7 linked regions of the Homo sapiens genome follow. The protein of the gene in region 2 purifies or fractionates together with the protein of the main gene of each other region. This does not show direct contact. Each region holds a gene or a part of one and is shown on either strand. Other genes may lie near its edges. The genes, in order: CIAO2A, NFS1, SUCLA2, PPM1K, CHD1L, SNX16 and SUGCT.

Region 1 (3,500 bases), on a different chromosome or scaffold from region 2:
AGGCCGAGGCACGAGAATCGCTTGAACCCAGGAGGCAGAGGTTGCAGTAAGCCAAGACAGCACCACTGCTTTCCAACCTGGGCAACAGAGCAAGACTCTGTCTCAAAAAAAAATAAAATAAAATAAAATAAAAATAAAAAATAAAAAGCCAATGGTCTTAGCTGAAATGCATAACGAAAGGGCTAAGACAAAACTTTCTACAGGAAGTGTACAGATCTGAAATATCAACTATAATCTAATGTTAGCACCCTTACAGAACAGTTTTTATTTCATGCACTCTCCTGATATTTGTCCACGTACACATTTTTCTATAACTGCAATCATGATGCAATTTGAACTTATTCAAGCTTTTTCATGTTTTTTTTCTTTTTTAAGAGATTGCTGGTTTCAAACTCCTAGGCTCCAGTGATCCTCTCGCCTCGGCCTCCCAAAGTGTTACAATTACAGGTGTGGGCCACCACGTCTGGCGAATATTTTCTTCTATAAAATTAGTTCCTTAACTCCTGCGTCAAACAGTATAAACTTCCAGATAGGGATTTACCAATATATACCATGAGGCTTCAAAATACTTACATAATCTAACCCAATTATTCCACGTATAGGAATTTATCCTGATGCAATAATGAGATATATAAAAATATTTATATAAGGCCAGGCACGGAGGCTCACCCCTCTAATTCCAGCACTTTGGGAGGCCAAGGCAGGCGGATCACCTGAGGTTGGGAGTTAGAGACCAGCCTGACCAACATAGAGAAACCACATCTCTATTAAAAATACAAAATTAGCCAGGTGTGGTGGTGCATGTCTGTAATCCCAGCTGCTTGGGAGGCTGAGGCAGGAGAATCGCTTGAACCTGGGAGGTGGAGGTTGTGGTGAACCAAGATCATGCCATTGCACTCCAGCCTGGGCAACAAGAGTGAAACTCCGTCTCAAAAAATAAATAAATAAAAATATTTATATATAAAGTTGTTCGGTCAGGCGCGGTGGCTCACACCTGTAATCCCAGCACTTTGGTAGGCCAAAGAGGGCAGATCACTTGAGGTCACAAGTTCGAGACCAGCCTGGCCAACATGGTGAAACCCCGTCTCTACTAAAAATACAAAAATTAGCTGGGCTTGGTGGAGGATGCCTGTAATCCTAGCTACTCGGGAGGCTGAAGCGGAGAATCACTTGAACCTGGGAGGTGGAAGCTCCAGTGGCCACTACACTCCAGCCTGGCCAATAAAGTGAGACTCTGTCTCAAAAAATAAAATAAAATAAAATAAAATAAAATAAAATAAAATAAAGTTGCTCATCACAGTATTATTTATAATTGCAAAAGGCTAGAAGTAGTCCAAATGGTTACAAAACTTCTGATGTACCAATATGATTAGCATGTAACCTATAACTATATAATTAAAGAATATTTAATGATGGCCAGGTATGGTGGCTCATGCCTGTAATCCCAGCACTTGGGGAGGCTGAGGCATGAGCCCAGGAATTTGAGACCAGCCTGGGCAACATGGCAAAACTAGCCAGGCATAGTGGCACCTGCCTGAAGTTCTAACTTTTCAGGAGACTGAGGTGGGAGGATCACTTGAGCCCGGGAGGTGGAGGCTGCCTGCAGTGAGCCGAGATCGTGTCATTGCATTCCAGCCTGGGTGACAGAGTGAGACCCTGTCTCAACAACAAAAAAAATTTAAAAAAAGAAATATTTAATGAGAAAAATAATTCATGTATTTCATGCTATTACTTAACTCTTACGACTCTATAGATATCCTTATTATTCCTGTTTTACAGATAAGGAAACTGGGTCTTGGAAAGGTTAAGTAACTTGCCGAAGCCCACAATACGGTACAGCCAATAGACCTGGAATTTTAGCCCAGAGCATATATTCTTTTTTTTTTTTGAGACGGAGTCTCGCACTGTAGCCTGGGCTGGAGTGCAGTGGCGTGACCTTCGCTCACTGCAACCTCCGCCTCCCGGGTTCAAGCGATTCTCCTGCCTCAGCCTCCCACGTAGCTGGGATTACAGGCGCCCGCCACCACGCCCAGCTAATTTTTTGCATTTTTGGTAGAGACAGGGTTTCACTACGTTGGCCAGGCTGGTCTCAAACTCCTGACCTCATGATCTGCCCGCCTCGGCCTCCCAAAGTGCTGGGATTACAAGAGTGAGCCACTGCACCCAGTGACATTCTTTCATAATAGCTGGTTTTTTTCTTTATGTTTTTGTGGGGTATCAAAATTACTGCCAATAAACATGTTACTCATATAATTTAAATAAATGTTAATTTTAAAAATGAATTTGCTGGCTGGGAGTGGTGGCTCACACCTGTAATCCCAGCACTTTGGGAGGCCGAGGTGGGCAGATCACCTGATATTGGAAGTTCGAGACCAGCCTGGCCAACATAGTGAAACCCCATCTCTACTAAAAATACAAAAAAAATTAGCCAGGCATGGTGGCGGGCGCCTGTAATTGCAGCTACTTGGGAGGCTGAGGCAAGAGAATCGCTTGAACCTGGCAGGCGGAGGTTGCAGTAAGCCAAGATTGCACCATTGCGCTCCAGCCTGGGTGACAAGAGTTAAACTCCAGCTCAAAAAATAAATAAATAAATAAATTTGCTATAGGTTCTTGAACTCTCCATTTAAGAACTCTTTCTTATATGTCAAAATATTTTAAGACACCCCCTCCACAACACCCACAGCAGTACTTTCAGTATCTGTTCGTTCACAAATTGTCCAATGACCAAAAATAACCATGCATTCAGCATTCAGTAATGCTTTTTCTAGCAATGGGATTTTTTTTTTTTTTTTTGAGACAGAGTCTTACTCTGTTGCTTAGGCTGGAGTGCAGTGGCGCAATCTCAGCTCACTGCAACCTCCACCTCCCATGTTCAAGCGATTCTCCTGCCTCAGCCTCCCGAGTAGCCGGGATTACAGGTGCGTGCCACCATGCCCAGCTAATTTTTGTATTTTTAGTAGAGATGGGGTTTCACCATGTTGGCCAGGCTGGTCTTGAACTTCTGACCTCAAGTGATCCACTGCCTTGGCCTCCCAAAGTGCTGGGATTACAGGTGTGAGCCGCCATGCCAATGGGAATTTTTTTTTTTTGAGATGAAGTTTTTGCTCTTGTTGCCCAGGTTGGTGTGCAATGGCATGATCTCAGCTCACTGCAACCTCTGCCTCCCAGGTTCAAGTAATTCTCCTGCCTCAGCCTCTCAAGTAGCTGGGATTACAGGTGTGTGCCACCATGCCTTGCTAATTTTGCTTTTTTTTTTTTTTTTTTTTTTGGGAGATAAGAGTCTCGCTCTGATGCCCAGGCTGGAGTGCAGTGGTGCAATCTCGGCTCACTGCAAACTCCGCTTCCCGGGTTCACGCCATTCTCCTGCCTCAGCCTCCTGAGTAGCTGGGACTACAGGCACCCGTCACCATGCCTGGCTAATTTTTTATAGTTTTAGTAGAGACAGGGTTTCACCATGTTACCCAGGATGGTCTCCATCTCCTGACCTCGTGATCTGCCCG
Region 2 (3,500 bases):
GGCGGCTCATGCCTGTAATCCCAGCACTTTGGGAGGCCGAGGCAGGTGGATCACGAGGTCAGGAGTTCGAGACCAGCCTGGCCAATATGGTGAAACCCCATCTCTACTAAAAATATAAAAAATTAGCCAAGTGTGGCCGGGCACGGTGGCTCACGCCTGTAATCCCAGCACTTTGGGAGGCCGAAGTGGGTGGATCACGAGGTCAGGAGATAGAGACCATCCTGGCTAACATGGTGAAACCCCGTCTCTACTAAAATACAAAAAAACACTAGCAAGGCGTGGTGGTGCATGCCTGTAATCCCAGCTACTTGGGAGGCCGAGGCAGGGGAGTCGCTTGAACCCGGGAGGCAGAGGTTGCAGTGAGCCAAGATCGCGCCACTGCACTCCAGCCTGGCAATACAGCGAGACTCTGTTTTAAAAAAAAAAAAAAAAAAAATTAGCCAGGTGTGGTGGCACGTGCCTGTAGTCCCAGCTACTCAGGAGGCTGAGGCAGGAGAATCACTTGAACCCGGGAGGTGGAGGTTGCAGTGGAGTGCCACTGCACTCCTGCCTAGGTGACAGAATGAGACTCTGCCTCAAAAAAAAAAAAAAAAAAAATTAACTGGGCCTGGTGGCATGCGTCTGTAATCCCAGCTACTCGGGAGGGTGAGGCAGGAGAATCATTAGAACCCAGGAGGCGGAGGTTGCAGTGAGCCGAGATCGCGCCACTGCATTCCAGCCTGAGTTATAAGAGCCAAACTCTGTCTCAAAATAAAAAAAAGAAGTAACAAGTCCTCCAGAGGTTGCAGAGAGCTGAGATCAAGCCACTGCACTCTAGCCTGGGCAAAAGAGTGAGACTCCATCTCAAAAAAAAGAAAAAGAAACAAGTCCTCCAGAGAAAAGGAGGACAGTACACACTCAAGGGGAACATGATCTCGTTCTCTGCCAGGCTTATTTCTCTAAACTTCATCCTAACTGTTAGATCTATTCCTTCAAGCTCCAGCTAGGGCCCAAGAGAGAAATTTACAAGCTGAAGCCAGGCTCCTCCATTTTTGCTCCTCCTGCCAATAGCCACTCCTACCTTTAGGTCAATGATCCCACTCTTCTGCACTGGGAGGTAGGTGACCTGAAAGCCCTCAGCTTCCAGTGAACGGCAGGAGTCCAAGACACATTTGTGTTCTGTCTGGGTGGTGATCAAGTGCTTTTTCCGTGACCTGTAGAATCGGGCCACCCCCTAGAAATTGGTGGTGACAGATGGAAGGAGAACATACTCAGAGAGACAGCAATGACTTCAATCTCATTTGTAAAGGAAAAGTGGGCAAGAACAGTATGCTCCAACACCAGTTCTCTCATACCAACTGAGTATCCTATAATTCAATTCTGAGGCTAACTCTCCAGACTTAGTGAAAACCCCATGGGTTAAGGGCTCAATCGTACAAGACTGCCCCTAGTTCAGATACCAGACATAAGTCCCAGGGGTCTCAAGCTACCCATACTTCTGCCCAGTCAAATACAAATTCAGGGCTTCCCGAAGCCCGGTCAAGTTCAATAATTCACTAGAATAAATCACATTTGTCCAAACCCATAGAATGTACAACACCAGTGAATCCTAATATAAGCTATGGACTTTGGGTGATAATGATGTATCAATATCAGGTCATCAATTGCAACAAATGTACCACTTGATGGAGGATGCTAATAATGGCAGAAGGCTGTGCATACCTGGGGGCAGGGCATATATAGGAAATTTCTATACCTTCCTTTCAATTTTGCTGTGAACCTAAAACTGCTATAAAAAATAAAATCTATTAAAATAATAATAGTATACAGATTAATGTAGGTATTTAAAAATCTGGAGAAATATACAGCAAATTAGCAGTGAAAATGTGTTTAGAGTTCTACTCTATATTATTGGAATTTATGATTCATTCATTTAACCAATATTTAGCACCTCCAGTATCCCAAGTAATTTTCTAGGTGCCAGTGATATAACAGTAAACAAGTCATGAGTAGGTATTACTGTTAATATCACAAGAAACAATAAAGGTACATTTAAAAATTCCTGGAATTTCAACTATTACAAGAAACTAAAAAAAACATTTATCTCATTGAAGAAAAAAAAAAAGCGGCCAGGTGCAGTGCCTCACGACTGTAATCCGAGCACTTTGGGAGGCCGAGGCAGGTGGATCATCTAAGGTCAGGAGTTTGAGACCAGCCTGGCCAACATGGGGAAACCCCATCTCTACTAAAAATTAAAAAATAAGCCAGGCCCGGTGGCACGCACCTGTAATCCCAACTACTCAGGAGGCTGAGGGAGGGGAATCACTTGAAATCAGGAGGCAGAGGTTGCAGTGAGCCAAGAGTGCTATTGCACTCCAGCCTGGGCAACAGAGCGAGACTGCATCTCAAAAAAAAAAAAAAAAAAAAAAAAAAAGAACGCCAGGTGCAGTGGCTCATGCCTGTAATCCCTCCACTTTGGGAGGCTCAGGCAGGTGGATCACGAGGTCAGGAGTTTGAGACCAGCCTGACGAACATGGTGGAACCCCATCTCTACTAAAAATACAAAAATGGCCAGGCGCGGTGGCTCACACCTGTAATTCCAACACTTTGGGAGGCCGAGAAGGGAGGGTCACCTAAGGTCGGGAGTTCAAGACCAGCCTGACCAACATGGAAAAACTCCGTCTCTACTAAAAAAAATACAAAAATTAGCCAGGCGTGGTAGTACATGCCTGTAATCCCAGATACTCTGGAGGCTGAGGCAGGAGAATCGCTTGAACCCAGGAGTTGGAGGCTGCAGTGAGCCGAGGTCACGCCATTGCACTTCAGCCTGGGCAACAAGAGCAAAACTCTGTCTCAAAAAATAAATAAATAAATAAAAATAAAAATACAAAAATTAGCGAGGTGTGGTGGCACGCACCTGTAATCCCGGCTACTCAGGAGGATGAGGCAGGAGAATCGCTTGAACCTGGGAGGCAGAGGTTGCAGTGAGCCGAGATCATGCCCCTACACTCTAGCCTGGGCGACAGGGTGAGACTCCATCTCAAAATAAATAAATAAATTAATTAATTAAAAAAAAAAAAGGGGGCTGGATGTGGTGGTGGCTAATGCCTATAATCCCACCACTTTGGGAGACTAAGGCAGGAGGATCGCTTGAGCTCAGGAGTTCAAGACCAGCCTGAGCAACATCATCTATACTAAAAAAAAAAAAAAAAAAAAAAAAAAAAAAATTAGCCTGGCGTGGTGGTACACATCTGTAGTCCCAGCTACTCAGGAGGATCACCTGAGCCAAGGAGGTCAAGGCTGCAGTGAGCTGAGATCTGGCTACTGCACTCCAGCCTAGGTGAGATCAAGACTCTGTCTCAAAAAACAGAAAAAAGAAAAAAAAATGGGCCAGGAGCAGTGGTTCACACCTGTAATCCCAGCACTTTGGGAGACTGAGGCAGGTGGATCACCTGAGGTCAGAAGTTTGAGACCAGCCTAGTCAACATGGCGAAACCCCGTCTCTACTAAAAATACAAAAA
Region 3 (3,500 bases), on a different chromosome or scaffold from region 2:
TTAATGTTCTACATGAAATCCGTACTGGGGCTTTCAAATATATACCCAGTTGCTTCAAAAAACAAGCTAGTTAACACACAGATTCAGCTTGTAAAACCTAATACCCTCGAAAAACAGATAATTCTAGTATAAAATGATTATCAATGCTCTCTTCCAAACACCAGGTCTATAAAGGGATTTTCTCTTCACCAGAAGCTTTATGTTCAACATTTTAGGTTCCATAAAGAGAGGAGAGCTGTGCTAATGTAATACTCCTTAAAACCATATTGTTTGCTACTTAATGTCATCCCTCAATTTACCAAATATTGAATCATATAGTGAAACAAACCCGAAACTATTAAAAAAAAAAAAACAAACCCAAGAAGTTGAGAAAACAGAAGATGAGGCAATGGATACACATTCTTCTAGTGGGTTCAGCAACTTTCTCTTTCATTAGAATATTTTACTATGCTAGATATAATTTTCTCAATCTGGAGATGATCCAGAGATGATTTAAGCTGCTTTTAGTGAATTAACAATTTGAGAATCCCATGAAATTTATTACAGCAGAATTTTTCCTATAATTTTAAGATCATGATATTATATATCAAATTTTACGGCATTAAAGAAGCTGTTTTTTAAATGACATAAATATCATGCTCATGACATACAAACAGATTATAATTTGTACTTTTAAAATCTTTCCCACATAAATAGAAACAATAATGGACTTTTGAAATTGAATGTCATAAATTTATCCCGTATGTATCATGTCTACAATTACTCACTTGAAATGACCTTTCCATTGTTATTGCAAAGTAGTATTCTCTCCTGGGATATTTTCGCTCACAGACCAATACTTGATTGCATATTCTGCCCTTTTCTCCCGTTTGCTTGGTAAACAATTTTTTCCCAATCATTTGTGAAGAAACAGCTTTTGCTTCTTCTGGACTAAAATAAGAAAAAGAACTCAAATTTTTCTTTCCTCCAGTTGAGAAAAAGCAAATCCACATAATAGCCAAAATTTTATCTCATCTAATATTTAAATTTCAGTATTTTCATCAATTCAATAAGTAATCTTTAATCAGTCTTTAACAAGGATGATTTTTCCTTAAAAAATGTGACTTACGAGAAAACTATCTTCACTCCTCCTTTGAGGCCACTTTCAAATGTTCCTTTTCCTCTACCACCAGCTAAAACCTGTGCCTTTATCACGACATCTTTTGAACCTAGAAGAAAAACACTTCTATTAAATATGAAGCATGGAGCAGCATGCCAGACATAGTATTTTGTTATTTAACATACATATTGACAGGTGTTATTAAATCAAGTCTAATTTATTCACAATGTCCAAAAATAAGGCATTCTCTTTATGTAGATTTTCTAGATTAGAACACTAAAATAATCACTGTCTAAAAGGCCCACAATTTTCAAAATTCGTCACTTACATTAAACCATTTCTTTTTTTTTTTTTTTGAAACAGAGTCTCGCTCTGTCGCCCAGGCTGGAGTGCAGTGGCGCGATCTCGGCTCACTGTAAGCTCCGCCTCCCAGGTTCACGCCATTCTCCTGCCTCAGCCTCCCGAGTAGCTGGGACTACAGGCGCCCGCCACCATGCCTGGCTAATTTTTTTGTATTTTTAGTAGAGACAGGGTTTCACCATGTTAGCCAGGATGGTCTCGATCTCCTGACCTCATGATCTGCCCACCTCGGCCTCCCAAAGTGCTGGGATTACAGGCGTGAGCCAGTGCTGGGATTACAGGCATGAGCCACCGCACCTGGCCACATTAAACCATTTCTTAAAAGTAAACTGAAAATAATTTAACCATTTCTTGACACTTTGGAAAGTGTCATCTAGAACTCTGGAAAGTATCAAAAGTACAAAATTGAATTTCATGTCTTCCTAACACGTCCCTCCCTCTCTATTCACATGTAAACTTGCTGTCCTGAGAACATCTGAGTTATATCGCTATAGCAGGAATATGTCATGATTTGGGGGATATTACCATTACCAGTATTGATACTGATTTATACTGTCCCACTAAGAGAAAGTTCTATTAAAATACATTATTGAGCAGTACTGCATGAGTAGTACTATCAGGAGTTATTAAGGTATCTGTATCAAAAGATTTCAGAATTCTATGCTTGCAAAGCTTATGCATATTTTTAAATAAATGGACTGAATTTTTCTTCTTTAACAGGTAGACTGATTACTATTTATCCCTTTTCCTCTCCTTTCTAATTTGCTGTGGAAAACCAGCAAACTGGCTGTTTAGCCTAGATAGTACTCATCATTCATGATCAAGAGTAAATGGGCCCGGTGCGGTGGCTCACTCCTGTAATCCCAGCCCTTTGAGAGGCTGAAGCAGGCGGGTCACATGAGGCCAGGAGTTCGAGACCAGACTAGCCAATATGGTGAAATCTCATCTCTATTAAAAATACAAAAATTAGCCAGGCATGGTGGTACATGTCTGTAATCCCAGCTACTTGGGAGGTTGAGGCACAAGAATCACTTGAATCCGGGAGGCGGAGGTTGCAATGGGCCAAGATTGTGCCATTGCACTCCAGCCTGGAGGACAGAGCAAGGCTGTCTCAAAAGAGTAAATGCTCTGGGTGATGGGTATCCTAAATGCCCTGAATTGATCATTACACACTCTATGCATGTAACAAAATATAACATGTACCACAAAAATATTATGTATCAGTTAAAAAAAAAGAGTAATACCTCTTAGAAAGGCATTCTCTGTGTACCAGACAGGCAGAATTCAGAGCCTCCTCATTTTGCCTCTCATAGCATTTTGCCCACACTGGCAGGGTGGCACCAACTATACATTATGGCAAAATAACCTTTGAGATCAGGGCTAAAGGTCTCACTGTATTCATTATATCCCAAGCACAAGGAAGTCTCTGGGATATAACAACTACTCCATAAACATGGATTTGAACAGACTGAAGTAGAGTCCTCTACAACTAGGATGTCACTCCACGATGCATTTATCAAGCAGAATGAGAGGAAGCTCCCACCTAATCAGATGAACCAACCAAATCAATGAGGTAGGAAATGGAGTTTGAAACCAAACAAAAACAACCTAAAGTTTACACATTAACAATTATTTTAAAAGAACATTTAGAAAATTACTGATGTAAGCCTTCACCAGAAATACATGCTATTTAAACCAGATGATGACCCTATGCGTAGTCAGCCAAGAGAGTGTTTAAAAAACTTGTCTTTCTCAAACCCCACTTCCATTCAGCCAGGAAATCATACTGGTTCTATCTTCAAATTTATCCAGAATCTTCACCATTCCTCATCACCTGCAGTTTAGACTCTGATCCCAACCACCACTATCTCTTAACTATATGACCTTTGTCCCCCACAGAATATTCTCAAGGCAGCAGCCAAAGCAGGCACACCATTCCTCTACTTAAAACCTTGCACTGAATGCCAGTCTCACTCAGTTAAATGCCAAAGTGCTTACAATGGCCTAGAAGACCTTATAATACCCTCTACACTTTTTATCT
Region 4 (3,500 bases), on a different chromosome or scaffold from region 2:
AGGGTAAACTGCACTTACTACAAAATTTTGTTTCACTGGCACTGGTCCTATCTATATACATAGGCCGAAAAGAATATTATCCACTCTTATAATACTGATACTGCTTCAGTTCTTGCTAAAAACTAAAGTTTTAAACTTAAATAATAACTTTGAAATTTAAAATGACATTTTAAAAAATCCATAAACTGAACAGTTACACAACATATGGCATTCTATCTTTAGTGGCTTTAATGTATTTGATAAAATAGGCCCTAAATATCAAGACAATTTTTGCCATCTTTGAAGGCTCTGGCAACTTATCAAGAATAAAATTTTTAAATGTTCTCAAAACACTAATTTTTAAAAAACACAGACCGATAAGAATATATACAAAATAAGATTTTAATAACAAATAACAAATTTAATAACAAAATAAGATTTAATAACAATATTATAATAGACCTTTTCTTTTAGTACACACTAAGAGCATCATCTTGTCTTGCTCCATTATACTTTCAAACAAATTACCATTATATGAAAAATACATTTTAAAATATCTTAAGAATGTTCTGGGATCATTACTTCAAAGCATATGATAGAGGAATTAAATTAAATAATGCATTTTAATTTCTTTATTACAAATGAATTGATTTTAGTAAGAATAAAAAATATGGAACTCTTCATGCATTTGTGTGCCATCCTTGCACAAGGACCATGCTGATCTCTGTATCATTCCAATTTTAGTGTATGTGCTGCTGAAGTTAGCATATGAATTACATTTTTGTGATTAATTTCTTTATACAACTGTTTAATGTTTTTGTGACAAAGGTATCTTTAGAAAGTTTCTTTTAAGATAGGCAAGTTAATTAAATTCTTTAAGTTCAAAATTCTGTTGAGTTATACTTCATTCAATAATAAAAGGAGTCCTGTCATATTTTACATCAAGTCAATCACCGATTGGTTTAAGCATCTACATTGACTAGATACTTTTAAAAGAGGCTGATGGCATTGAGAAGGCCAATGTTTTTGGTTGGTGGTCACATGCCTGGGATAAATTTGGACATTCTCATCCAAAAACCTTGCCCAGTAAGCTGCAGCTATTTACAGAACAGCTGGGGCACACCACCGACACTACAGTCAACAAACATTGTGGTGTGAGACATAGCCAGATGCACAGCCAACTCAGTTACTATGAAATAAGAGCATACCAAAATTCAGGAAGTAATAAAAATAAAACCATAAGAAAATATTTCATTTCCTCTTTTCCTTCATGTGTTTTAACTATTTGGAACAAGAGCTAAGTCTTATGCATAAAGTTTACCTCTTTCAGCTTCTGTCTTCTTAAAGGTAAGGGTCCAGTTGAAAGGAAAAAGAAAAATTCCAAAGGAATGAAAGAAAAGAAAATGGGCCTAAATGATCTACAAACTGGAAAACATATCCCTGAAGAGAGTGGACTGTAATGCTTTCCTGAGGAGTGTGATAGTAAGGTTCTCAAAAAAAGCTCAGGAAAAAATCTCAAGATGGTAAATAGAGCCATCGCAGAGTTACCTTCTCCTCTCCTCATGAGAGAAGAGAGATAATGCTGGTGGTCAGGAAAATCCCAGCCCTAACTCTGAACTGACCTTTACCACTCTAATCTTCAGTTCCTTCGCTGTGAAATGCAAACAATCTCTATCCTTATGTATTCCAACTGAAGACTGTGCAAATGACATTTCTGTGGTGCACTTGGTTTCTTTCTTTTTTTTAAGAAAAGGATGAACCAAATACAGATCAAGATTATTGCATGATTCATTTTCAAATCATTTACAAGGTTACATGCACACATTCATTTGGCTGGTACAGAAATTTTCAGGGTTAACTTTAACAGCAAAAGATTTGGGACTAGCTAACTAGAAAACGTTTGCTGAATTTTCGTGAAATGGTTTTGATAAATTTAGTCAAAACCAGAAACATTTCACTTTCAAAATTTAAGGACATACAGTACACAAAATTTTAAATTCAGCTAGCATGACCTTATGCTGAAAATATCACTAGTTACCAGAGAAAAGCTGCAAGATTGAGCTTTTTAAGAAGTGACAGAAAAATATTTTCCTTCTAGTTATACAAATTAGTGCATATTAACCATTGTCTTTTTCTATTTAGGACCTATTTGCAATTTTTTTCTTGTTGGACAATGACTGTCCTCGCTAGATGTGATTACCCTGTAGTGTATTTCAGCACTTGGTCACCAGATCCATCTAAAAAAAAAACCAAAAACCCAAAACAAAACTCATAGTATGGACATTTTGTCCATAAAATAAGCAAACAGATTAAACATTTTTAAAATCTTTTAAAAACTAAAGTACAACATCAGAACTGTTTCGGGGCTTCTCTTTCTGAAAAATTCTCCAATATATTTCATTTAAAAGTGAGGTATTAACATTAATTGGAGTTCCCAACAGCATTTAATGTGATTCTTCATATAAACTCATTTCTACATAAATCCTTACAAACAATTGTCCATTAAAATCCCCTCCCCCAAAGGACTTAAAGTGTTTCCTTTTTACTCCTCCCCCACCCCATGTACTCCCTAGGATCCAAGGAATGTGATAGTTTTACATACCATCAGCAGACAGGCGGGCATGACTCGAAAAGGCTTTATCTATTTCTAGAAAAGCCAAGGTCAACAGAGTTTCCAAGTTCTTCTCCTTAGGAAGCAAATCCCTTTGTGGGGAGGAAAAAAAGAGCCTTAAACAATCATTTTACAATAGGTTTTTCTCCTCACTGTTACTCTAGCTAGCAGTCATTCCACACAACGGGCCTCAGGATTTTCCTGTCAAATGCTGAAGACCTACTGGCTAAGGAATACCTATTGAGAATCCACAAAGTATCAGGCACTGTGATAAGCTTTTAAGGGCACAACAATGAAAGTCCAAGTCCTTGTCCTTGAAGAATTGATCCTCACTACCACAACCCTGAGAGGTCGAGAGTTCCTTCCCATTGTGAGTTCTTTCGTGGAATGCGGTATACACAGGAAGTCAAGAAATGGTCACTGGGAAGTCAAAAATAGTCACATGGTCGTAACTCCATCACATGTTCTCCCTCTTTCAATTTTAGCAGTAATGTGATCCTCAAAAATGCATTAATACTAGTTGAAGTAAATAAACGGAAGAGCTCCAAAATGCCTGCATTAAATGCATTTTTCCACACTAATGCCAATCATCCAAAGCTATTTTCAACAAGTCAGGTATTCAAAGCTATTCACACCACTTGAAAGAGTAATTACCATTTACTGAAGCACTTATCTGTCCTACACTGATGGGAGTAAATGCTTCTCATAGGTTATCTCATGTACATTATGCCACTTCACTTAAAATGATCACAAATTAAGTGCTATAGATTTTGGTTAATGCTTTCCCCAGGGGAGTTGTTAAAACATGCATTTCTGAAATTGTGATAACCATAAGTAATAAATGGCACACTTAAACTACTGCTCATTCGTGAAGCAGCAGCATGCAACCACTCAAGTAACTATGTTTACG
Region 5 (3,500 bases), on a different chromosome or scaffold from region 2:
TTTTCCAGAGCTGTAAATAAACCACCTCTGCCCCAGTGGCCAGAGTCATCTGTTTGAAGAAAGAGAAAATTTTCATCTATAGGAGGTGAAGTCCAGTGCACAATTTAGAAAAACAAAGGCACACAAAAGGGACTTGTGGAAGAATGATTTTTCAAAGGGAAGAAACAAAATATCTTATCTCCTAGGAATATCACAGGTTGGACTTCCCAAATATGTTTATGTTTTCTGGAAGATATAGCTGGGGCCATGATAACAGGAAAGCATCTCAAAAATTAGGGTTCTCAATGAGCAAAATCTCTGTGGTGCATCTGTGATTCCTGGCAAATGACTGCGGAAGGACGGAGAGTAGATGGAACATTACAGAGTGAGTAGAAGCAATAGGTTATGCAACAGCACATAGGCAAGGTTATGAAACAGTACACAGGAAAGGTTAAGTGACTTATTCAAGCTGGTACTAACAAAGCTGCTTAGTATCTTAGCATTTATAGTCATTCATTCACACTACAAACGTTTGGTAGCATGTATTACACGTAAGGCATCGTTCTAGGCACCACAGTCACAGCAGCGAACAAGAAAAAACCCCTGCTGCCATAAGTGTATTTTTTAATGCAAAGCAACAGTCAAATAAACAAATACATAGGTAATGTGTCAGGTGGGACAGGTGTGATAAAGGAAAATATGGGAGAAGGGACAGAGAATAACAGGGGGGATGGGGCCTGTTTTATATGAGGTAATCACAGAAGACCTCTCTGAGAAACAGACATTTGAACAACACTTGATGTGGTTATTTGGGAAGAAAGGGTTTTAGGCAGATGAAGTAAAAAGTACAAAGGTCAAGCAAGGGAACAAGCTTGAAGTTTTGCTTTTTCTCAAAGGATTTGTTTGTCTTATCAATGTTGCTTCATTTCACCCTCTTAAAAACCTTGTGCAGAGGATAAGACAGATATTGTCCCATCATATGGATAAGGAAGTTGAAGTTGAAAGGTTGGGTAACTAAACCAGGTAAATGAGAAAGCCAAGAGTGAAATGATTCTGGAATATCTCCTGACTCTAAAATTCACACTTTTTTGACTGTACAATACTACACTGGGACCACCACCCCAGTCCCAGTGCCCCATCCTCCCCAGTTCTTGGCACCATAAGGACTGAGGCCCCCATCCCCAGCCCATACCACTTCTCGTACCTACGCAGTGCACAATGAGAGCATCCTCGGCCCCAGCCTGAGGGTGGGTGACATCACCACTAACGTACTTGAGGGAAGTAGCATCTGGGTCTTGGTAATCCAGCTCAGCAGAGCTCTCTTCCCCATTCTCAAGGTCCTCTGGCTCGCTCTCCTCAGAGGGCAGGCAGAAGGACTGGTAATTGTTGGATTCCCACCAGGCCATCCTTTAGCAGGCCAGAGACAAAAGGAAATTAACCCAGACAATCACAATTTCCCTTGGAGCACATTTTATACTGCTGTTCACAAACAATATCTGCCAAGTAGAAATGCAATTAGAAACTCACCCTGATTGAAGTTTTCTACTTATTTGTAAACAAGTCTTACTGATTAGGCTAACTGCTTCCTGACTACAATTCAATAATGAGCACTCCCTGAATGTTCCTGTTTTTAAGACTAAAAGAGATTGTTGAAGTAAATTATTCTTTGTCAGATAGCTACAATAAAATCTTAAAATCTTCTGGTTTTGGCCGGGCATGGTAGCTCACGCCTGTAATCCCAGCACTTTGGAGGTCAAGGCAGAAAGACAGCTTGGGCCTAGGATCTTGAGACCAGCCTAGGCAACACCGTGAAACTCTGTCTCTACAAATAATAAAAAAAATTAGCCAGGCATGGTGGCACACACCTGTGTTCCCAGCTACTAGGGAGGTTATAGTGGGTAGATCACTGAGCATGGGAAGTTGAGGCTGAATGAGCTGTGCCCATACCACTGTACTCCAGCCTGGGTAACAGAGCAAGAACCCATCTCAAAAGAAAAAAGAAAACAATTCTGGTTTTAATGGAATGCATCTTCCCTGCCTTATACACTGAGACTTTTCACTTACCTAGAGGAAATGTTTTCAGAAAGTATTCTGTTACCAATAGGAACCAACTTAAAATGAATTTTCTGTATTTTTAAAGTGATATTCAACTGTGGTCTCACTATACAATAGTGACTCCTTCAACTGTGGCCGCCAGCTTGGTTAACGCAGACATACTTTTTCTTATGTTCAGCCTCTTCCTTTTGCCTCTTCTTCTCCTCTATGAGTCTCCTTCTCTTGGCAGCTGCTTCTTGTCTTTTCTTCTGTCTGTCCTCCAGCTCTTCTGGACTCAGAACCCGCTTCCTTTTGGTAGATCCCTCCACAAGGCCTGGGATGAGAACCTAGAGGAAGAACAAGATCCATCACCAGGGTCAAGAAGATTCCTCCCCGAATTTCATTATCCCTAACACACACTGTACGGAAGCAACATGCTTAATATTCCACAGAACACTGCATCTCCACACACCCTGCATGGTGGGAACTGGAGGCAAAGCACTTGGAGGCACTGTTCATACTACACACTTCACAGGCACAGTGACCAGGATACCATGCTGTAAACTCAGCCCTAGCATTGGCATGGTTGAAACAGTCATTTTGATTCATTTCATTAGGAATAAGTTACTTCAGAAAAGTAACTTTTTTCCTTGACTAAAAGCATACCCTGCAGGATGCCACTTCAGCCATTTTTAATGGAACTCTTTCTGCAATGTATTATGTAACTTTTTTAAGATTGTATTTCAACATCATGATTATCTTAGTGATAGCTAGCATTTAATGACCACGTTAACTGCCAAACACTGTGAACACTACATATATCATTTATGATTGCCATCCTCTCTTCTTGTCATAGGGTCATCATTACCAACAGCAGGATATGGTATTTTGGTATAATATAGGAATGCCTTTAGGGGTGACTTGGATGGACAAGGCTGCTTTCACCTACATGACATCGTACAATATATTCTCTCCTTTATGTTTTTCATGCTGACTTTTTTACATAGTTTTTATACTAGGGTATAGTTAATTATAATAACATTTCAGCAAACACATACTTATTTCTTGACAAATCATCCTAAGAGAACAAAACGATGCCAGCATCATTTTTTTGTTTGTTTTAGAATGAGAGTTTGGAAGAACAACTTTTAAATAAATTAACAGTTCTTACACTGCCTTTATTTCGGAGTGATCGGCCCTCTTGACTAGCTTTCTCCAAAAGGGTTTTCTGAAGGTTTACCAGTTGTTCAAATGATTTTCTGTCTTCCTTACTGGGCTCTTTAGAATAATCTTTACCTTCAAATAAGTACATATGATTTTCTAACAACATAAAACACAAAGAGAGAAATGTTAGATACCAAGGAAAAATAGATTAATGCTATTCAAATCAATAACAAAAGTGGACAGGAGAACAGCCTATATTCTAAATGGGCTAAGTCCATATGAAGGAAGGTATTTCATTTCCCATCCCACTGACACTGAAGAAT
Region 6 (3,500 bases), on a different chromosome or scaffold from region 2:
GTCACATTGGCTTCAATTTTTTTTTTCTAATACACAGTATATCAGTGAATATCAATAGTTATATCATTCACTCAAGAAGTACTTATTGAGAACCAACTATGTTAGTGCTGTGCTAAACATTAGATTGGATGGTGAATAAAATAGCCACATGACCTGTTGTTAAACATCTTACAATCAATCTGGTGGGAGAAAGACAAATATTGACAGAAATAATTATAAGCTGAAATGCTATGAAAGTGAAGTACCAATTAGCCTTTCTCAACTGAGATTCCAAGAGAGAACTGACCCCTACTGATAATGATTTAAGTGATTGTCTCAATTCTATTGAGACTGGCACATAGCTAGTATCATCTTAGAATATAGGAAATAAGTTAATTCATTACCTGTGGGTGATGAACGGTGTCTTAAAGCATCAGAGCCAGTTGAGAAGGGATGGTACAGACTCTGTGATAGAGAACTGACCTAGTGTTTGGTGGTGGTGGTAGTGGTGGTGAGTGGTCAGTCAGGAGGCCAGTTACCTAACGAAGTGCAGTTTGTGTTGAAAACTGAAGGATGGGTAAGGTACGAGGTCAGGGTTGGATGGGGTAGTAGTGTGAAAGGCTGCCTTTTCAGGAAATAGCATATTTGAAGGCTCTGAGAAACAAGGAGCAAGCTGATTTTGGAGAATTAAAAGAAGACCAATATGGCAAATGTACAGAGAAGGGGAGGTGGGCAGGAATAACAAAACCTAAGATTGAAAAGAAGGCAGGCAGGCAGGGACCAGAAAGAATAAGTCAAACTGCATCACAAAGATCACTGTGGCTCTACTGGGCTATAGTAGTAAGAGGGGAGGAGGAAGACCAGTGAGAAAGCATCTACAGTAATTAAGGTGAGAGATACGTGCTTGGACTAGGGTAGTGATGGCAGGGATGGAGAGAAGTAGACAGACTTGAGTGGTACTTGCAAGGGAAATGTTAAGGGTAGTGAAGGATGTGTTAAAGATGACTCACAGGTTCTGGGTAGATGATGCTGCTACAAATTGGAGGAAAAAAGTCTGCATACTAAACTTTCAAATATGTTTTAGGTTTGACGTAATTTTGAGATATCTGAAGATGTCGAGGAGACAACTGCATATATCAATCTGGAGTAGAAAGAATGGGTTTGGCTTGTAGTTCCTTCATTAAGAGAAAAATAAGGGAGGATGGGCAGAGACCTTGAGAAGCCATCAGGCTTATGTGGCACACACTGAAAAGCAAGATGTGTATATATATATATACATATACATATATATATATATATATATATATATATACACATATGTGTGTGTATATCTATATATATATATCGCACGTGTGTCATGCAGGAAAAAAATTGATACATGCAAAGGTTGAGAAAAAGAGGTAGAAAAAATTAGATAGAATGGTTTTCTTAATTTGTTTTCCATCCTCATGTGAAAAACTGCCCAAGACAGTTACAGGCCCAAGTTATCTATAAGCTATTGCTACACTGTAAATGCTTTCTACTTTTTTTTTCAAAGTAGTTTTAATTTATCTGATAACATAAGTTCCAAAATTAGATACTCAGCTGATATTGAACCACTAAGCAATTTTCTTGTAAATATATTCTGAAGCAAAAAACCCACATAGATCTGTTCTTTTCCTTTTTTAATGCTGTTTGGTATTTTCACTCTACCTTCTATGTAAATTAAGCCAATTTCACAATTTTAATATTTTTGCATTACTTTGGAGAAATATAAAGAATATTACCCTTACAATTACATAGTATCATATTAACCAAAATTTTACTAATATGTAAGTGGTTTTGTTTAAGTCATTGCTAAAATACAAAATACTAAAAGTTTACCTTTGGGTGGTTTAGTACATGGTACACTGGATTTTTCACTTTACTGACTATTTAAAATAAGCTTTGATAAAAATGAAATGTCAAATAAAGTCCTTATTGAAAGAAAGCAAGAAAATCTCTTGTAGTACTTTGTTAAAGAAGACAAGTAATTATACTCCAACCCTGTATTTTTGTGCTTAAATAACTATGATCATAGATTTATTCTTTAATTTACGCCAGTTATTGGAATGCTTTTATAATCTCTTATTTCAATTCGTTACATACCAGTTAGCAATGTCCTTGTGAGCTACTAAATTTTGAAGAAACGCTTGTAATCCTAATTGTCTGTCTTCTAAAAAGTCAGCATTGTAATTATCTTTAAACCAGCGTTTTGGAGGAAGTGCTAGTCGAAAACCTGGAAACATCTCTTTTAACTGAAAAAGAAGAAAAGAGCAAATACAATGTTTAACTCAAGCACTATCAATTCTACAAAATCTATCCTGTTGACTACATGAAATTATTCATGAAATAAGTTTAAAATAAAAGAATTAAATTCAGTTAAGCTTTTTATGCCTTGTTTTATTTCTTGTTTTCTACCAGCTGTGTATACAGAAGAGTTCCAGTCTTTCCACATCCTTGCCAGAACTTGGCATTGTCCATCTTTTGAATGTTAACCATTTTAGTGGGGGTGTAGAACCATTTCATTCTGGCTATAATTTGCATTTCTTTGCTGACAAATGAAGTTGAATATCTTCTCATCTGCTTATTTGCATTTGAGTATCTTCAATGGTGAATTATGTATTAAATTTTTTAGCACCTTCCCTTTAAAAAAATTAGGTTGCCTAAGTTATAAGAGTTCTTTATATATTTCAGATACAAGTCCTTTGTCAGATACATGCATTACAAATATTTTCTCCCAACTTGGCCTGACTTTTCAATTTGTCTTAACAGAGCAGATTTTTTTTAATTTTAATGTTATTTAATTCATCCATTGTTTCTTTTATGGTTTATGCTTTTTTTTAGATCATAAAAAAAGTCTGCTTACTCCAAGGCTGTAAAGATTTTCTTCTATGTGTCTTTCCTAAAAGTTTAGTTTTAACTTTTATATTCTGGTTATGACCTATTTTATACATTTGGCTTAAATTTTACTTTCTTAGGGAAGACTTTCCCAACCCTGTAAACTAAGTGAAGTCTTCCCTTTTACATTCTGTTCAAGTTACCACAACTGTGTAACAAATTACCTAAAATCTCAGTGATACAAGATAACCATTTCTTAATATTAAGCTCACAGATTTTTTAGGTCAATAATTCATATGAGGTACAGTAAGGATGATATATCTCTATTATGCAATGAATTCAGGCCTCAGCTGAAAGACTTGAAGGCTGGGTGCTGGAACTGTCTGAAGTTCACTCACTTACATCTATAGTGGATGATGCTGGCTGCTGGCTGAGAACTTTGCCAAGGTTGTCAGCCATAAGCCTAATACTGGCCTCTCCAGGTGTCTTGGACTTTTCTTGCAGCATGGAGGCTGGCTTCAAAAGGGAGCATTCCAAGAAAGCAAGCCAGAATGAAACTGTGCACTTCTTGTAATCTAGGCTTAAAACTCACACAGCATTATTTCCACTGACCTCTATTGGGTTGAGTAGTCGCAAGACCATCCAGGTTCAAGGGGAGGGGA
Region 7 (3,500 bases), on a different chromosome or scaffold from region 2:
AAGGTTGGGTTGAGAAAGAAGAAATAATTAAACATTAAAAGAATCATATGATTTCTCAAATCTTCTAATGTGAAATAGAAAAAAGAATTGTCTATTAACTGTGCAGACACATACACACAAGAAAGTTAATAAAATAAATTGCTATTGTGAATATCTGTTGGTAATAGGAAAATATTTATATTTACTATATACTTCTCAGTGCATTTCTCTCCCCAATGCCTACTAACCAAACTAAAAATAAAAGATTTTTTAGAAACCGATCTGATGTTTCAATGTTTTAAATTCCTTCTTGATATATTTTATCTTGTTTATGCTAAAAAAATTAATTGAATTTAAATGAGTTAATTTGTTGGGGAGAAAGAGTTAAAGCAGTGTTTTTCTCCTATTGGGTGAGAGGCTCTCTCACAAAAAAAAAAAAAAAAAAAAAAAAAGAAGGTAAAAAATCTGGTCAAACCTCCTTGTAAGCACACCAATAGCTGGCAAAAATACTAACAGTGTTTGCTTAATAATTTAAAAAAAGACTATTTACCCATAAAAAGCTGTTAGCAGACTGCCCCTGAATTAGGATTACTATGATAAACAAACTGAGAATCTCAAGATTTATGGGACATGGAGCACTGGGCACAGGGCATGAGCTTTGCAACTATCTGGGTATAAAACGGAGATGTTTCACAGCCTGTAACACTCCCTGCTAATAACTCATATATTTCATTAAGGACCTCATCTACTGCTTTGGGCCACAGAGTTTTGTCTATTGCAGTAAGAAAGGATCCGGGGGCCTCTCTCAATGTCCCAGACATGTCTCTGCTTTTTCTGAGCCTTTTGATTGCTTGTATTCTTGAAATTATAAGGAAAGCTTAATATTGATTAACATCTCCACTTCATGTCAGTCTGATTTGACAATCCAATCCTTGGCCCATATGTAAAGATGTTAGAACAGTACTTGACACAAAATAAAAATCACCTATCAAAATTATCAACATTGTTATTAGTCATTGATATATCAGATAGTTTCTACTTGTCACTACCTTTAATTCTGCTAAGCCTTAAATCGCACAGAATACCTAAAAAAACTCACATTTCATACTTCATCTGGCTGATGCAGTGATTCAATTACCTCCTTATTAAGTCTAGCTTCTGTTGAATCATTTTCAGAAGTTAATTTGTCCTTTTTTTGTAGCCCATCATAAACCATGTTAATTGTTTTGCAAAAGTACTGTTTTGCAAAATAATGTTTAAAGCAAGTAACTGAGACGGTATAGTAGCTAAACTTATTTTTCCCTGCTTTTCAATACAATTTCAAGGACGATATTGCCATGAAACTTGGAAATGTCTGGCAGTTTACTATTATTATTGTCAAAAGTTGTAATGTAATGCCTTAAATCAATACACTTAAAATTAAATTTGTCATTAGAATTTAAAATTATTTAATGTCTTAAAAGTGAGAGACAAGTTCAAAGTTACATTGACCCTTGAACAACAAAGTTCTGAACTGCATGGATCCACTTATACGTGGAATTTTTTTTCAATAAAAGTTACACTAAAGGCTGGGCACGGTGGCTCACACCTGTAATCTCAGCACTTTGGGAGGTCAAGGCGAGTAGATCACCTGAAGTCAGGAGTTCAAGACCAGCCTGGCCAACATGGTGAAACCCCGTCTCTACTGAAAATACAAAAATTAGCCAGGTGTGGTGGCACATATATGTAATCCCGGCTACTCAGGAGACTGAGGCAGGAGAACTGCTTGAACCCGGGAGGCGGAGGCTGCAGTGAGCTGAGATCGTGCCACTGCACTCCAGCATGGGTAACAGAGCAAGACTCCATCTCAAAAAAAAAAAAATAATAATAATAATAATAATAATACCATATGATCCAGCAATTCCACAGCTGGGTAGATATCCAAGAAAGAAGAAAATCAATCACGAAGAGATATGTGCACTCCCATGGTTACTGCAGCACTATTGACAACAGCGGAAATATGGAATAAACCCAAGTGTCCATCAAAGGATGAATGGATAAAGAAAATGTGTTCACGCACAGTGGCTCATGCCTATAAATCCCAACACTTTGGAGGCCAAGCAGGAGGATCACTTGAGGCCACGAGTTCAAGAACAGCCTGGGTGACAGAGTAAGACCCTGTCTCTACCAAAAAATACAAAAATTAGCCGGGCATGGTGGCACACACCCCTAGTACCAGCTACTTGGGAGTCTGAGGTGCAAAGATCACTTGAGTGCAGGAGTTCCATCCAGGCTGGAATGAGCTATGATCATGCCACTGCACTCCAATCTAGGCAAAAGACTGAGACCCTGTATATATATATATATATATATATATATATATATATATATATATATATATATATGTCACATTGCAGTTGTTTTTGAAACATCCATATATATATATATATAGAGAGAGAGAGAGAGAGAGAGAGAGAGCGAGACAGAGAGAGAGGAATATTATTCAGCCATAAAAAATTAGCTGGGCAAAGAATAAATTCCTGTCATTTGCAACAATATGGATGTCACTGGAGGACATTATGTTACATGAAAGAAGCCAAGCACAGAAAGACAAATATCACATATTCTGACTCAGATGTGGAAGCTAACAAAGTAGATCTCATGAAGATAGAGAGCAGACTGCTGGTTACCAGAGGCTGGGAAGGGTAGGGGGAGGAGAGATGAAGAGAGGTTGATTAGTGGGTACAAACATACGCTTAGATGGAAGAAATAAGAATTGTTGTTCAGTAGATCAGTACGGTGACTATAGCTAACATCAAAAGGCTGTACATTTCAAAATAGTTAGCAGGGAATAATTGGAATGTTCCTAGAACAGAGAAATGGTAAATATTTAAGGTGATGATGGGTATATCAACAGCCCTGATCTGATTATATTAATGTATGGAATGATCACATGAACCCTGAAAACATGTACACCTATTATGTATCGATTTTTAAAAAGCTAAAAAAAAATGAAACTTCTCAACCTAATAAAGGGCATCTATTAAAAATCATAACCCAGATCACACTTAAAAGTAAAGAACTGAATGTTTTCCCCTAAAATGAAGAACAAGACAAGAGGCCAGGCACGAAGGCTCATTCCTATAATCCCACACTTTGGGAGACTGAAGGGAGGGCCACTTAAGCTCAGGAGTTGGAGCCCAGACTGCACAACATAGTGAGACCCCCGCCTATATATTTTACAAAAGAAAAAAAATTTAACTAATTATTTTTTAAAAGAATGAGACAAGGATGTCCACTCTAACCACTTCAATTCAACATTACACTGGAGGTTTTAGCCAGTGCAGTTAGGGTACAAAAAGAAATAAAATGAATTTAGGTTGCAAAGAAAGAAGTAAAACTATCTCAATTTGCAGATGACCCAGTCTTATATATCAAAAGTCCTAAGGAATCCACTAAAAAACTCTTAGAACTAGTAATCGAGTTAAGCAAGATTGCAAGATAAAAGCCAATATACAAACATCAGTTGTATTCTACACACT

What was found.
Region 1: the proteins of NFS1 (region 2) and CIAO2A purify together in Homo sapiens (co-immunoprecipitation; one large-scale study listed by IntAct). This does not show direct contact.
Region 3: the proteins of NFS1 (region 2) and SUCLA2 fractionate together in Homo sapiens (co-fractionation; one large-scale study listed by BioGRID). This does not show direct contact.
Region 4: the proteins of NFS1 (region 2) and PPM1K purify together in Homo sapiens (co-immunoprecipitation; one large-scale study listed by IntAct). This does not show direct contact.
Region 5: the proteins of NFS1 (region 2) and CHD1L purify together in Homo sapiens (co-immunoprecipitation; one large-scale study listed by IntAct). This does not show direct contact.
Region 6: the proteins of NFS1 (region 2) and SNX16 fractionate together in Homo sapiens (co-fractionation; one large-scale study listed by BioGRID). This does not show direct contact.
Region 7: the proteins of NFS1 (region 2) and SUGCT purify together in Homo sapiens (co-immunoprecipitation; one large-scale study listed by IntAct). This does not show direct contact.

Annotation. Positions count from the first base shown.
Region 1 is NC_000015.10:64,083,839-64,087,338, forward strand, and holds part of CIAO2A (cytosolic iron-sulfur assembly component 2A), read right to left. Parts: intron 1-3,500. UniProt on the Homo sapiens protein: Component of the cytosolic iron-sulfur protein assembly (CIA) complex, a multiprotein complex that mediates the incorporation of iron-sulfur cluster into extramitochondrial Fe/S proteins.
Region 2 is NC_000020.11:35,689,353-35,692,852, forward strand, and holds part of NFS1 (cysteine desulfurase isoform a precursor), read right to left. Parts: intron 3,019-3,500; exon of another isoform or gene 2,897-3,018; intron 1,214-2,896; coding exon 1,061-1,213; intron 1-1,060.
Region 3 is NC_000013.11:47,987,774-47,991,273, forward strand, and holds part of SUCLA2 (succinate--CoA ligase [ADP-forming] subunit beta, mitochondrial precursor), read right to left. Parts: intron 1,209-3,500; coding exon 1,109-1,208; intron 931-1,108; coding exon 768-930; intron 1-767. UniProt on the Homo sapiens protein: ATP-specific succinyl-CoA synthetase functions in the citric acid cycle (TCA), coupling the hydrolysis of succinyl-CoA to the synthesis of ATP and thus represents the only step of substrate-level phosphorylation in the TCA.
Region 4 is NC_000004.12:88,274,562-88,278,061, forward strand, and holds part of PPM1K (protein phosphatase Mn(2+)-dependent 1K), read right to left. Parts: intron 2,683-3,500; coding exon 2,582-2,682; intron 2,217-2,581; coding exon of another isoform or gene 2,176-2,216; exon of another isoform or gene 366-2,175; intron 1-365. UniProt on the Homo sapiens protein: Serine/threonine-protein phosphatase component of macronutrients metabolism.
Region 5 is NC_000001.11:147,284,184-147,287,683, reverse strand, and holds part of CHD1L (chromodomain-helicase-DNA-binding protein 1-like), read right to left. Parts: intron 3,334-3,500; coding exon 3,185-3,333; intron 2,361-3,184; coding exon 2,197-2,360; intron 1,387-2,196; coding exon 1,184-1,386; intron 50-1,183; coding exon 1-49. UniProt on the Homo sapiens protein: ATP-dependent chromatin remodeler that mediates chromatin-remodeling following DNA damage.
Region 6 is NC_000008.11:81,821,686-81,825,185, forward strand, and holds part of SNX16 (sorting nexin-16), read right to left. Parts: intron 2,256-3,500; coding exon 2,107-2,255; intron 1-2,106. UniProt on the Homo sapiens protein: May be involved in several stages of intracellular trafficking. Plays a role in protein transport from early to late endosomes. Plays a role in protein transport to the lysosome. Promotes degradation of EGFR after EGF signaling.
Region 7 is NC_000007.14:40,271,005-40,274,504, reverse strand, and holds part of SUGCT (succinyl-CoA:glutarate CoA-transferase), read right to left. Parts: intron 1-3,500. UniProt on the Homo sapiens protein: Coenzyme A (CoA) transferase that reversibly catalyzes the transfer of a CoA moiety from a dicarboxyl-CoA to a dicarboxylate in a metabolite recycling process.